4 linked regions of the Homo sapiens genome follow. The protein of the gene in region 2 purifies or fractionates together with the protein of the main gene of each other region. This does not show direct contact. Each region holds a gene or a part of one and is shown on either strand. Other genes may lie near its edges.

Evidence for each region. Proteins that work in one complex are often made in the same cells at the same time.
Region 1: the proteins of SEC14L2 (region 2) and NIT2 fractionate together in Homo sapiens (co-fractionation; one large-scale study listed by BioGRID). This does not show direct contact.
Region 3: the proteins of SEC14L2 (region 2) and LYPLAL1 fractionate together in Homo sapiens (co-fractionation; one large-scale study listed by BioGRID). This does not show direct contact.
Region 4: the proteins of SEC14L2 (region 2) and GPI fractionate together in Homo sapiens (co-fractionation; one large-scale study listed by BioGRID). This does not show direct contact.

What each region holds. Positions count from the first base shown.
Region 1 is NC_000003.12:100,348,257-100,351,804, forward strand, and holds part of NIT2 (omega-amidase NIT2), read left to right. Parts: intron 1-546; coding exon 547-625; intron 626-3,548. UniProt on the Homo sapiens protein: Has omega-amidase activity. The role of omega-amidase is to remove potentially toxic intermediates by converting 2-oxoglutaramate and 2-oxosuccinamate to biologically useful 2-oxoglutarate and oxaloacetate, respectively.
Region 2 is NC_000022.11:30,417,518-30,421,871, forward strand, and holds part of SEC14L2 (SEC14-like protein 2), read left to right. Parts: intron 1-4,354. UniProt on the Homo sapiens protein: Carrier protein. Binds to some hydrophobic molecules and promotes their transfer between the different cellular sites. Binds with high affinity to alpha-tocopherol. Also binds with a weaker affinity to other tocopherols and to tocotrienols.
Region 3 is NC_000001.11:219,208,378-219,211,925, forward strand, and holds part of LYPLAL1 (lysophospholipase-like protein 1), read left to right. Parts: intron 1-2,137; coding exon of another isoform or gene 2,138-2,154; coding exon 2,155-2,270; intron 2,271-3,114; coding exon 3,115-3,351; 3' UTR 3,352-3,548.
Region 4 is NC_000019.10:34,375,196-34,378,743, reverse strand, and holds part of GPI (glucose-6-phosphate isomerase), read right to left. Parts: intron 1,242-3,548; coding exon 1,158-1,241; intron 1,010-1,157; coding exon 863-1,009; intron 1-862. UniProt on the Homo sapiens protein: In the cytoplasm, catalyzes the conversion of glucose-6-phosphate to fructose-6-phosphate, the second step in glycolysis, and the reverse reaction during gluconeogenesis.

The sequences.
Region 1 (3,548 bases), on a different chromosome or scaffold from region 2:
TCTCGGAATTGTGCCACTCATTTTTTCACCAAATACGGGTGTTCCAGAAACTATCATGGCACGGGTGGGTGTGTGATTTAGTATGTTAATGAGCTTATAATGAGGATAATGAAGTCCTAGGTGAAACCTAGGTCAAACCCAGCACCATATTGAGTCCACTGGGTCTTAGCCCTAGTTTCTCAGGGTCTTAGCCCCTAGCGTAGGCAGCTATTTCAACAGTTTCTTTTTGCTAGTCATATGAAACTGCTGCCTGGAATTTTCTGTTCTCTTGCGACCGTCCTGTATTATTTCTGTCTCAAAGTCACATGTGATTTTGGTCATCAACACCACTTTTCTTGTGTGTCCATATGTGTGTGACTTACGTGTTCGTATTAAAGGAATTCAGAGCCATATCTTAATTGCTGCTGGCACTGTCTGACTTGGCTGACATCTTTTTATGTTTGGGAAAGTTTGAGTTCAGTTCCTGCTAGATAAGGAACAGTGGGGAGGACTGGTTTTGTTGAGTGCTCACTGCATCCACTGTTCTTTGGCTTTTCTCTCCCCAAGGCTGCCAGCTGTTGGTATATCCAGGAGCTTTTAATCTGACCACTGGACCAGCCCATTGGGAGTTACTTCAGCGAAGCCGGTAAGAAAGGAACCATATATTCAAGCCTCTCGGCATGTCCTCTTTGTAGAAAGATTTCCGGTTGGGTGGAGGTGCCAGCCTTCCTGATGTGGATTCTGTCCCTGACTCAGGATGCCCTTGTATCCAAATGCAGTTGGAAAGGATGAAGCTATAAGGAGGACTTCTACTGCACGTCACTTTCTCCTCAGAAGCCACAATACCAACCTCATGGATTTTGGAAACTGTACTTTTTTTTTTTTTTTTTTCTTTTTAAGAGACGGGTCTTACCATTGCCCAGGCTGGAGTGCAGTGGTGTAATCATAGCTCATTACAGCCTTGAAATCCTGGGCTCAAGAGATCGTCCTGCCTCAGCCTCCTGAGTAGCTGGGACTACAAACATGCGCCACCATGCCTTGCTAATTTTTTATTTTTTGTAGAGATAGAGCCTCACTCTGTTGATCAAGCTGGTCTCAATCTCCTGGCCTCAAGCGATCTTCCCGCCTCAGCTTTTCAAAGTGCTGGGATTACAGGTGTGAGCCCCAAGCCCTGCCGGAACTGTGGTTTTGGCATTTTCAATATTCAGTGTATTAGATGGGAAGGGATTTCATTTTTCTGTGATTAGATGTGGATTGGTCCCTCTTAAGTCAGTTCCAGCAACTTTTACAGAGAAATTGAGAACCACAGAGCTTATGTCTTCAGAGCCCCAGAAGCCAATTAAAAGGCAGGGATTAGTTTAGCTTGACCTAGGGAGAGATTTGTGGTCTGTACCCAGCTGATTCTATGCCATTCAGATCAGGATGCTTATCCTACCCCCTCCTTCACACCATCCTACTAGTCCTGAGGGTACTGTGCCAAGAAACTCATGAGAAGCTCTTGTTCTTCTAACCTATAACTCCAGGGCTTTGCACAAGCATCTTTGGCAGGTCACAGGTGCCTTTCCTTAGTCTTCTAAGGCTGAGAGGTGGTGAAGGGCAAATAGCATAGGTGGACATAAGATGGAAGGGAAAATGAATGTGACTGTGAGTGTGTCTGTCTGTCTGTAAAGTGCTCTACAGCCCATGAAATGCTGGTCTGAGATGATGGTTTTCTTTAGAATTTTTAAAAGTTGAAGTAATACAAAAAAAGTGTACTAATTTTAAGCATAGAGGTTGGTGAATTTTTGTGTATTCACCTGCCACCAAGATGAACATAACAGAACATTTCCAGCCCCCGAGGATGCTCCCTTTTTTGCCCCTTTCTAGTTAGTACTCCTCCCTCTGCCTAGAGGTAGCTGCTGTTCTCACTTCTAGAGATGGTGGTAATGTTTAATGTAAGGGAAAGAGGTTTTAGCTGGTTGCATGGTGGAAGATGGGGGTAGGGGTATAAGATGCCATGAGTATCAGTGAAGGTACAGTTTTGTCAAAAGTGAGAAGTTTCTGGGATACTGAGATGACCCAGCATGGGTCTGTTAAGTCTCGAGGGCTCCGAGGTGAGGTGCTTTGGTGTACCTGGACTGCGAGCTGCAATTTTTGTTCTATTTGAGGTGGTGGGACTGCCACCATGGGCATGGAAGCGCCATGTGGCCTGCAAGGTGTATTGCTCTCATAAGGCCACTCCATTCTCTCCGGCCACCTTGACTTGCTTTAACCAGAGAAGCTCTTCTCTTATGTTAGCTTATAGCAGGCTTTCTCAGCAGTGGCACTGTTGACATTTAGGTGTGTAATTCTTTGTGTGGGGGCTGTCCTGTGCATGGTAGGATGTTTAGCAGCATCTGTGGCCTCTACCTGCTCGATGTCAGTAGCATCTCCTTAGTCACGACAGTCAGGAAGATCTCTAGACATTGTCAAATTTGGTGGGCAACATTGCTCCTTGCTGAGAACCACTGGCTTATGCAGTAAGGTAACTTTGCACAATGTGCAGGTTAGTTACATATGTATACGTGTGCCATGCTGGTGTGCTGCACCCATTAACTCGTCATTTAGCATTAGGTATATCTCCTAAAGCTATCTCTCCCCCCTGCCCCCACCCCACAACAGTCCCCAGAGTGTGATGTTCCCCTTCGTGTGTCCATGTGTTCTCATTGTTCAATTCCCACCTATGAGTGAGAATATGCGGTGTTTGGTTTTTTGTGCTTGCAATAGTTTACTGAGAATGATGATTTCCAATTTCATCCATGTCCCTACAAAGGACATGAACTCATCATTTTTTATGGCTGCATAGTATTCCATGGTGTATATGTGCCACATTTTCTTAATCCAGTCTATCATTGTTGGACATTTGGGTTGGTTCCAAGTCTTTGTTATTGTGAATAGTGCTGCAATAAACATATGTGTGCATGTGTCTTTATAGCAGCATGATTTATAGTCCTTTGGGTATATACCCAGCTACCAATGACTTTCTTCACAGAATTGGAAAAAACTAAAGTTCATATGGAACCAAAAAAGAGCCCGCATCGCCAAGTCAATCCTAAGCCAACAGAACAAAGCTGGAGGCATCACGCTACCTGACTTCAAACTATACTACAAGGCTACAGTAATCAAAACAGCATGGTACTGGTACCAAAACAGAGATATAGATCAATGGAACAGAACAGAGCCCTCAGAAATAACGCCGCATATCTACAACTATCTGATCTTTGACAAACCTGAGAAAAACAAGCAATGGGGAAAGGATTCCCTATTTAATAAATGGTGCTGGGAAAACTGGCTAGCCATATGTAGAAAGCTGAAACTGGATCCCTTCCTTACACTTTATACAAAAGTTAATTCAAGATGGATTAAAGACTTAAACGTTGGACCTAAAACCATAAAAACCCTAGAAGAAAACCTAGGCATTACCATTCAGGACATAGGCATGGGCAAGGACTTCATGTCTAAAACACCAAAAGCAATGACAACAAAAGCCAAAATTGACAAATGGGATCTAATTAAACTAAAAGAGCTTCTGCACAGCAAAAGAAACTACC
Region 2 (4,354 bases):
TTGGCAAGTGACAAAACCTAAGCTTCGGTTTCCGGACTGCTACACTGGGGTATCTCACAGGGATACCTGATGATTTGATGTGATAGGTTCTGTGAGGCACTTAGCATAATGCCTGGCATAGAGCAAGCACTCAATGCACTGCAGTCACCACTATTATTGTTAGGACAAGGCCTGTGGGAGAAGGGCCATCCTGCAGACAATGCCGGGAGATGGGAGAAGCCCTGTGCCCCATTTCTACGGTAGTACCAGCACTACCAGGAGATCTGAACTAGCCTCACAGATGTCTTGGCCTCTCTGCTTGTCTACATGGTCACCCAACCTGAGATTTTGCCTCCTTCCTCACATCCCAGGCACCCTTCATCTCCACTGCCCCCTCCTCACAGATGCTCTGTGGTACCATATAGCTCCTGGGGGAGGCGGAATATTCTTATTAGTGAGCAGCCGGGTCCTGGGGGAGAAGGTGTATACTGTGTGCTTCAGCAAGAACAAGGCTTAGCACCAGCCCAGACAATGTCACCCACAGAGGAGAAAGCACTTAATACATATAAGCTTGAATTTTTTTGTCTGTTTCTTTGTTTTTAGTAGAGACGAGGTATCGCTGTGTTGCCCAGGCTGGTCTCGAACTCCTGGGTTCAAGCGACCCTCCTGCCTTGGCCTCCCAAAGTGCTGAGATTACCAGCATGAGCCACCATGCCCAGCCTTGAATTATTTTTTTAATGGATGGGGAAGCTGGGGCATAGAGAAGGGATGTTCTCCCATAAAGTAGCTTATGTAGACATCAAGACAGAAGACATCAGAGAATCCTAGAGTCCTGATCCAGAACCTCTTGGCCATTGACTGTCCTGGATGTGTCAGAGAGTGTGGAATCCCAGACCAGGGAAGTAATTGACCCAAGGTCACAGAGCCTGTAGGAGAGCCCCAAACCATTTTCCAGCATCTGCCCATTACCCCTCTATCTTCTCTTTAGTATCTGAAGGACATTGCCCAAGAAGGGAACATGAACCTTTTAACATAATCAGGCTTGGGCTTGCAAACCCCCAAATTTATTTTAGTTCCTTCTGGATACATTCCCAACCAGAACCTTTACCTGCCTGCAGGGTCTTGTCTGGGATCTGCTCCTTGCCCATTCCCAAGAGGAGCAGAGGCAGGCCACAGGATCCATTCCCCCTTCCCAGGTACAAAGACAATGAAGTTGGAATCAGCTGTTACCTGGTGCCACAGCTAAGGTTAGATGTGAGCCCAGAGAGAACCCAGTATTAGCTTGCAAGCTCATCTGCGGGAGGGCAATGCCCTTGGAGAACCAGGAGACCCCTGGAAAGCAGAACAGTCATCCAGTGGAGAAATTAAAACTGTGCCAGCCTCCAATGGCAAGAGCACATTAACCTTCCCCAGGCTTCTCTGGTCCTTATCCCAGTGCACTAAATTACCAAGGAGGAAAACCAAAGTTTGAATTGATTTCGCTTTTGTTTTCTCACCTAATATTTACCAAGGGCCTACTGAGTACAGAATACTCAACTAGGAATGAAAAGATTCCCAAAGAAAGATCTGGACTTTGTCCACTAGAAGTGCACAATGTGGTCAGAAGACTGGAAACACTATAGAAAGGGTGAGCAGTGCTGTGGTGAAAAGAGCCCAGCCAGGCACCAGGAGGCCTGGTTTCTGAGTCCAGCTTTGCCAATGACTCTCCCAGTGTTTTCAGCAAGTGTCTCTATTAGGTTTGGTTTTCCTTCTCCTTAAAATGACAGAAGTGATGGCCGGGCGTGGTGGCTCATGCCTGTAATGCCAGCATTTTGGGAGGTCAAGGTGGGTGGATCACTCGAGGCCAACAGTTCGAGACCAGCCTGGCCAACATGGCAAAACCCCGTCTCTACTAAAAAATACAAAAATAAGCTGAGTGTGGTGGCGCATGCTGGTAATCCCAGCTACTTGGCATGAGAATTGCTTGAACCCAGGAGGCGGAGGTTGCAGTAAGCCAAGATTGCACCACTGCACTCCAACCTGGGTGACAGAGAGAGACTCTGTCTCAAAACAACAACAACAACAAAAAGAGAGGAGTAGACCAGAGCAGATCTTAATGTGGGGTCCCCCGGAGCAGTGGTTCTAAATCGTAAAGACCAAACACTTCCTCTTTACAGCAAATAGTGTCTAAAATGTCCCCTTTACTATTCTGAAGTGAAATTCAAAATACAGAAATTCTGAATATTATATCCCAATAATATAACCCATCCTACCTACACATGTAATTTAAAAATCAATATAATCTCCTATGGTAATAGAAAAGAGATATAAAAGGGAACTAATTTAGAATATATATTTTTTCAATACATGAATGAGAGGGTAAGGTTGTACCTTTCCCATTGGGAACCATGGCCCCAGAGGTTCTACAGTGGGCTCCAGGAAATCTAAAATTATGTGCCTTTTTTTCTTTTCTTTTCTTTTCTTTTTTTTTTTTTGAGACAGAGTTTTGCTCTTGTTGCCCAGGATGGAATGTAATGGCTCGATCTCGACTCACTGCAACCTTCGCCTCCCAGGTTCAAGTGATTCTCCTGCCTCAGCCTCCCAAGTAGCTGGGATTACAGGCATGGGCCACCACGCCTGGCTAATTTTGTATTTTTAGTAGAGATGGGGTTTCTCCGTGTTCGTTAGGCTGGTCTTGAACTCCCGGCCTCAGGTGATCCACCCGCCTCAGCCTCCCAAAGTGCTGGGATTACAGGCGTGAGCCACCACGCCCAGCCAAATTGTGTGCTTTCATCAGATTCTCAAGGGGGTCAGTTACCCAACTAAAGTTAAGGAGCCTTATCCTGGAGGGTGTCTGGGGGCTCTGTGAGTCTATGATTAGTGTCAAAATGAACCATGCAGACTCTGGAGCTGCAATGACTCCACTTCCCTCTGGCCTGTGGTTCTCTGATCAACCCCTTTCTTGTTTCTGAGGCCAAGTATCTTGCTAGGCAGGGCCATTATCGACCTAGTACTTGGTGCAATGAATGCAAAGGACCTCTCCTCCAGCATGGCTGATTCTGGTTGCTAAGACTCTATCATCCAGGGCAGAGATGAAGCTTCACTCTTGCCAGAGGGACTATTGGCTCTGAAAGACCTCTAGTACAGGGGAAAAATAGATGACTAACACCTTCACCATGAGGAAAGAGTGGGTGGTGTGTCTACCCTTTGTCTAAACTATGCATTTTGTCCAGGGTCAGGAAAAGGTTAAGTCTTAGGATTAAATACAGGATATTTTTTTTCTTGCTGAGAACAGTGAGAGAAGACCGGGATAGGGATGGGGCAGAACTAGTGTTTTTGTTTTCACATTCAGTTCTCCTGAAGCGGTGTTTGGCTGAAATGGAACAACTTCTCAAAGAAACAGGGTTAGATTAAAAGCAGCCTGTTCCTCTGCCAAAGTGTGGAAGCTTTCTCTGCCAAGTGCATGCCCATTTTCTCTTTCCAGAGGAAACCACTGCTAATGTCTATTATCCTATCAAATATCTTCCATCTAGAAGCATTACATGTTTCCATAATAAACAGGGCATACAGTGCTCGCTTTGTCAGCACATACACTAAAATTGAAACAATACAGAGATTAGCATGGCCCCTGCGCGAGGATGACAATCAGGTTATCTTAAATAAATAAATAGAAAACAGGACATACACAAACACACACACACACACACACACACACACATATTCACAGGAATTGTCTGTCATTCACTGTATGTTTGAAGGAATTTTGAAACTGTCAAACTCATCGCAGGATTTCAGGAAACTTTCCCATTAGGACAAGCACCAGAGTGGTATCATCAGAGAATCTGGGAGTCTAAGCAGACAAAGAAGTAAAGCCAAAAGTATTTTTACCTATGTAGTTACAAAAAAGTTACAAACTGTTTACATACTGTTCTGCAACTTGTTTTGGCCTCAGGACACATTGTGGACAGTTTCCTGTCACTTCTGTGGAGCTAACCTCTTTTTTAAAAAATATATCAGTATTCTATCACATGGATTACAACATAAAATTGTTGAAGCAATTCTCCTTTGATGAACATTTGAGTTTTCCCAATCTCTTATTATTACAAATAGGGATGCAACGAGCATCTCTGTCCATTTACCTTTTTGCAGGATAAATTCCTGGTTCACAAAGTTTGCACATTTTACCTTTTGTCAGAAATTGAAGAGGGCCAGGTTTTCCAGGGTCCAAGTCAGGCAGAACAAATGCAGCAATGTGGAACAGACGGAAACTCCAGCTCTGTCATTTCCTCACTGTGTGTCACCAGAGTCACACCACCTCCTTTTTATCAGCTATAAAACAGGACTACTGCTGAACTCGTAGAGTTGGGGGAAAGAGTGAGATAACATATAGATTACC
Region 3 (3,548 bases), on a different chromosome or scaffold from region 2:
ACAAAGACATTCAGCTTGGGAGTATCACAGGCAGGACTAGAACTAGTTTCCTTAATGTTGTCTCTTTGATAAGCTTAAGAGATATTTGTAAATTTTTTACTACTTTCATTAGAAACCCATACGGTTTCTAAAAATTCAGTTAAATTTTTATTGAGTTACTGCTATGTGCAAAGCACTATACTTACCACTGAGCGTGTAAAGTTGAAACTGACTCATTAGTATGCGTGCACCACAGAGACACTTTGTTCAGCTAATCATAAGCACTCAATGAAAATATGATTATTGAAGAAAAACTGTTTCTTACCCTTAAGGGTTTCAAAATCTCAATAATTTATATTCAATAAATTAAATCGATAAGAATTTTATTTCAAAATGTCTTCGCTTTACAACCCTCATGATGTTATTAAAGAGAAAACTTCATAAGCAGAGAGAAATCTGTAACTAGAATTGTGGCAAAAAACAATAAAGTTGAGATTTTTTTCTGTGTACTTACAATAAATGTTTACCAGAAATACTAATTTGTGTATTTACGTAAGCTGTTCATATCTAAATGGGACATGTCAAAGATTTATTAATGCACAAATTCATGGATAATGTAGCCCAGTGGCTTTTAACCTTTTGGAGAATCTAATGTACATTTGCAAATTTTACATACAGTGTTAAGATGCTTATGCTTTTTTCTCCCCCACCAAGCTCATTTATGAACTTCTAATTAGATGTATCTACATCTGGAGTTATTGGGGGTATTTTGAAAGAGCCTTTCAGGTGGCTCTTGTCCATGGTGGGCTACTGCTACGATAAGAACTTATTATTTCTTGCTGGTATGTTGAAAATCACAGATAACTTTTATTCATTATTTACATAGTGTGCCTTTTTTAAAAAATCTAAACTTTGCCAGACTGGTAATCTTCTCTCGGGTATTTGTGTTCTGAGTCCAAAATAATATTACCTGCCTATTCCAGATAAAGTAGTCCTATTTTAATAAATATCAAGGGATAGTAGAAAGTATATTAAACTCTATTGCAAAAGATCCGAATTCCAAAATTACTATTAATAGTTTTATATTTAAAATAATATGTACCTAATCTTGGGCCTCAGTTCCCTCCATGTATAAAAGATTATTGTAGTAAATTCAAATTTATGGTCTCTTAAGAGCTCAGCTTTACACTTTGTTAAGTGAAATAAAGCAGCAGACTTGAAATTAGGAGATTTGAATTCTACTTCAAAGTATATTTTTGTATTTCTATGAGTGTGTGGCTACATGATTTACATTCTGTATTTTCTCATGGAATATAATGAGATGTCATTTAGCTTTCTCTCAAGCTTAGGAATGTCACACTGAGTCACTGACTTGTCGTCAGGCCTGGAATCACCATTCTCTCTGCTGCCGTCACCTCATAACAGCTATCTCCATATTCTGTGTTGGATGTGTTTCCTTCTCAAAGTTCCCCTGAACAGGAGGGTCTGTGTATTTTAATCTGCATATATCCAGTGACTGGCATAGAATTGGTACATTAAAGAGACAATAACAGTTTGACTAATTTTTTTTTCAAACTTTGGTTTTAAAAACTACATATAGGCATACATGTTTCATTTTTATTATATCACCATAAATTAGTTTCCAAAATAATATTGTAATCCAAAAATGTGTTAACTAGCTCCTCAAATTTTTTTTATCATTCTTAATTCAGAATTCACTAAGCATCTATTATATAGCAAACACCAGATACATAACTCCTTATGGAGCTCACAGCTTAGCAAGTAAGACAAAAAGGTGCAAATTATTAATTGCGTTGCAGTGTGAGGGTTTCTGTACGTGTAAACAAAATATAAGTAAATATTGAGAATTTAAGTAATGCTTGTAATATGACTCATTTTGAATTACGATAGATATTTTACTTGGTGAACATGATATATTTGTTTAATCCTGGCTCCTTGTAGAGCACAGCTCTCTTTACCAGTGGTGACATAGAGGGAACAGGGTTATTTATGTTATCGCAGGCCTTTGTCTGTGAAACTTAGAGTAGACGAAATTTCTTTTTAGCATTCTCTTTAAAGGTCTCCAGATATTTTAAAAATATGGAAAATTGTTATATATCATATCCTAAATTATTATTTTATGTATTCTACTTTTAAGTATGTTTTTGTTTTTAGGAGGATTCTCTATGGGAGGATGCATGGCAATACATTTAGCATATAGAAATCATCAAGATGTGGCAGGAGTATTTGCTCTTTCTAGTTTTCTGAATAAAGCATCTGCTGTTTACCAGGTAAGTTCCAGATTTAAAAAAAAATGAAAAAAATATGAAATATATACATGTTAAAACTAAAGCAAAATCGGTAATAAAGCTGTAAAACACACACACAGTTGATGCACAGTTGATATGGATTGACCATTCCTGGAATTCATGGCCAAATGAGTCGTAGTGATTAAATTCCAGCTGATCATTAATGTTTTGGAAATCCCCTGTACAAGAAATATTGTTAAGCAAAATGTCAAGGAGGAAAGGATAATCATGTGTGTGGTTGTGGGGGAGCATATATGTAAATTTTATACATATTAAAACTGCATGATGGTTATAGCTGGGTTTGCTTATTGCATCATGAACATAAAACAAAAATCAATTACATAGCACATACTTATTATGCAGCAATATCCTCATCTATGAATATGATGCAGCTTCAATTATAATGTTACAGCTTCAGTACCAGAAGTGGAAATGTTAAAGCAGATACAGAATAGAGAACTAAAATGTAATTGTCCCCTTGATTGTGCCTTAGCTGTGTACTCCTCCCTCCTTCCACATTGTGTGAAGAGGTCTGTCTTCCCAAGTCACTTAGTTTCTTTAGGAAATGCTTTGGCCATTTTTAAGACGTCCTCTATAGAATAAATGTAAGTGACACACAGTTACAAATTGAGTGATGCCAGGAACCAGCTAAGTCCCCAGGCCTGGCCCACCAATGTATACCTCAGACAGCACTCCCTCTGCCTTTTTTTTCCCATTAGTTATTGAAGCCTTGGTAAAATTGGAATTTTCCTGTTCTCTCTGATTTCTAAGAATGATCTTAAATGGAATTTCTTAAACTTTTCTGTCTTTGTATCTTCTTCTCTAGGCTCTTCAGAAGAGTAATGGTGTACTTCCTGAATTATTTCAGTGTCATGGTACTGCAGATGAGTTAGTTCTTCATTCTTGGGCAGAAGAGACAAACTCAATGTTAAAATCTCTAGGAGTGACCACGAAGTTTCATAGTTTTCCAAATGTTTACCATGAGCTAAGCAAAACTGAGTTAGACATATTGAAGTTATGGATTCTTACAAAGCTGCCAGGAGAAATGGAAAAACAAAAATGAATGAATCAAGAGTGATTTGTTAATGTAAGTGTAATGTCTTTGTGAAAAGTGATTTTTACTGCCAAATTATAATGATAATTAAAATATTAAGAAATAACACTTTCCTGACTTTTTTATTATTAAAATGCTTATCACTGTAGACAGTAGCTAATCTTATTAATGAAAAACAATAGACAAACATCTGTGCATAATTTTTC
Region 4 (3,548 bases), on a different chromosome or scaffold from region 2:
AACACACCCCCCAACCCTAAGCCTGCAGGTCAAAGGCCGCAGCTTCTCCCCTGAGGGGCTGCAGTCAACCTGAGGCTCTCTTCGGCCCAGGCTGGAAGGTATCTCAGAATTCAGATGGAATTCTTCATATTTTATGTACATTCATGTGAGTAAATAGAACATAAATAAAAACAAACAAAACCCCTCTATTATCAGGGCATGGCTCTGGGATCAGAAAGGAGCAAGCATGGCTGGGCATGGCGGCTCAAGACTGTAATCCCAGCACTTTGGGAGGCCAAGGGGGGGTGCATCACCTGAGGTCAGGAGTTCAAGACCAGCATGGCCAACATGGCAAAAGCCCATCTCTACTAAAAAATAATAATAATAAATAAATAAATAATAAAATTAGCCAGGCGTGGTGGTGTGTGCCTAGTCCCAGCTACTTGGGAGGCTGAGGCAGGAGAATCGCTTGAAACCTGGGAGACGGAGATTGCAGTGAGCCGAGATCACGCCACTACACTCCAGCCTGGGTGACAGAGCCAGACTCTGTCTCAAAAACAACAACAAGAAAAGGAGCAGGCATAAAGGACAGGTTTGTAAGAAAGTGGCGAGCAGTCCCAGGCTGAGCAGAGATGCCGCAAGGCGAGCGGGTGTGGTCAGGACACAAAGGTTCAAACTGATGTGTTCAGGATTTCATCAGTCAACCTTATTTGCTGCTAGGCATGGAAACAGTCTAGGGCAGCTGTACTGACCTGATCCACAAACCATGGTTCACTCGGAACCCACCAAAAGGGACCAATGGCCAGGGGGATGGCAAGACAGCTGTCCCTCCCCACCCCAACACACACAGGGCCAGGGGCCGGGCAGTTTTCGGCACTCATACCTTGGAGGCAATGATGAACAGGGAGGACTCGGGGTTCAGCTGGGCCAGGGTTTTGGCAATGTGAGTTCCATCAATGTTGGAGACATACCAGACGCGGGGACCTCCTGAAGAGTATGGCTTAAGGGCTTCAGTCACCATGAGGGGTCCCTGCGGGGAGACATAGCATCAGAGAATAAGAATTCAGGGCCCACGAAAAGTGGAGACAGCCAGGTCCCATCCCTGGAGAAAGTAAAGACCTGAGTGGGACCAACAGTGCCCAGACTCCCACCCTACCCCAAGGCAGTTTTCTCCTCACCAGGTCGGAGCCGCCAATGCCAATGTTGATGACGTCCGTGATGGTCTTGCCTGTGTACCCCTTCCAGTCACCGCTCCGGACACGCTGGCACAGGGGCGAAGATGCCATCAGCCCAAACCCCCAGGCATAATCCGCTGCTCAAAAACATCATTACTGCCGTGTCCTGGTACCTCAGTCCCAGCTTTCAGGCCCTCGCAGGTGCCTCTATTTTTTTGTTTTTAATTTACCATATATATATATATATATATATTTTTTTTTTTTTTTTTTTTTTTTTTTTTTTTTTTTGAGATGAAGCCTTGCTCTGTTGCCCAGGCTGGAGTGCAGTGGCATGATCTCGGCTCCCTGCAATCTCTGCCTCCCAGGTTCACGTCATTCTCCTGCCTCAGCCTCCTGAGTAGCTGGGACTACAGGCGCCCGCCACCACACCCAGCTAGTTTTTTGTATTTTTAGTAGAGACAGGGTTTCACCGTGTTAGCCAGGATGGTCTCGATCTCCTGACCCTGTGATCTGCCCGCCTCAGCCTCCCAAAGTGCTGGGATTACTGGCTTGAGCCACCGCACCCAGCTATTTATTTTTAATTTTTTTTTTGAGACAGAGTCTCCACTTTCTGGGTTCTAACAATTCTCATGCCTCAGTCTCCTGAGTAGCTGGGACTACAAGCCTGCGCCACCAGCATGCCTAGCTAATTTTTTTGTATTTTTAGTAGGGACGAGGTTTTGCCATGTTGGCCAGGCTGGTCTCGAATTACTGGCCTCAAGTGATCTGCCCAGCTCGGCCTCCCAAAGTGCTGGAATTACAGGTGTGAGCCACCGCGCCTCGCTATTTACTTATTTTTAAAACTGTGCCTTAGGGGCCAGGCAGGGTGGCTCAAGGCTGAGACAGGAGGATTGCTTGAGTCCAGGAAGTTGAGGCTGCAGCAAGCCAAGATCGCAACACTGCACCTCCAGCCTAGGTGACAGAGGAAGACCCTGACTCCAAAAACAGAACAAAATGCTCTGCTTTAGCCTTTTTTTTTTTTTTTTTGAGACAGGGTCTCACTCCGTCGCCCAGGCTGGAGTACAACGGCACGATCTCAGCTCACTGCAGCCTCCGCCTCCAGGCTCCAGGGTTCAAGCAATTCTCCTGCCTCAGCCTCCCAAGTAGCTGGGATTACAGGCACCTGCCACCCTGCCCAGCTAATTTTTAGTATTTCCAGTAGAGATGGGGTTTCGCCGTGTTGGCCACGCTGGTCTCAAACTCCTGACCTCAGGTGATCCACCTGCCTCGGCCTCCCAAAGCGCTTGGATTACAGGCATGAGCCACCACGCAAAGCCTATTTTATTTTTTGTAGAGACAGCGTCTTGCTACGTTGCCCAGCCTGGTCTCTAACTCCTGGCCTCAAATAATCCTCCCATCTTGACCTCCCAAAGTGTTGGGATTACAGGCGTGAGCCACTACACAAGGCATAGGAGTCTCTGGAGACCACACTGGTCCCTGCCACACTCACCACCAACTAGACTCTTTCCTGGTTACAACAGTGAGACATCCCTACCTTACAGCGACACTGTCAGAATTTGCAAAACCAGGGATAACTCGGCAGAATCTGCTATGCCAGAGACCAAGAGATGTGAAATGTTGAAAACTGTGACTGGGCTATGCTGGGGAAAGGAGTATCAGACCCGCAGCCAGTCTCCAATCAGACACCAGTGATCCTTGCTTCCTGGAATTCATGCCTCTGCATAGCTTCCGCCTGTGCTGGGAGGGGTGACCTATGCACCCATCCAGAGACTGCAAAAAGGGGTGAAATGTGACTTCAGAAGTGAGTTCAGAGAACGTGCAGTTTCTGCTTTGCTCTCTTGGATGACTCGCTTTGGGGAAGCTGTCTATCATGTTGTGAAGACATTCAAACAGTTTCATAAAGAAGCCCACGCGGCAGCGAACTAAGGCCTTTTTCCAAAAGTCACAGCCAACTCGCTTCCTGTGTATGGGACACTTTAGAGGGGGGTCCTCCAAACCCATCAAAACTTCCGATAACTGGGGCGCTGGCCAACATGTTGACTACAGCCTTATGAGAGATCCCCAAACCAAGACCAACCAGCTAAGCCGCTCCCAAACTTCTGACCCACAGACACTGTGAGAGGTAATAAAAGTTTACTGCTAGGCCGGGCATGGTGGCTCACACCTGTAATCCTGGCACTTTGGGAGACCAAGGCAGGCAGATCACAAGGTCAGGAGTTCGAGACCAGCCTAGTCAACATGGTGAAACCCCGTCTCTGCTAAAAAAAAAAAATACAAAAATTATCCAGGCATGGTGGCGTGTGCCTGTAATCTCAGCTACTCGGGAGGCTGAGGCAGGAGAATTGCTTAAATCCAGGAGGCAGAGGTTGCAGTGAGTGGAGATCACGCCATTGC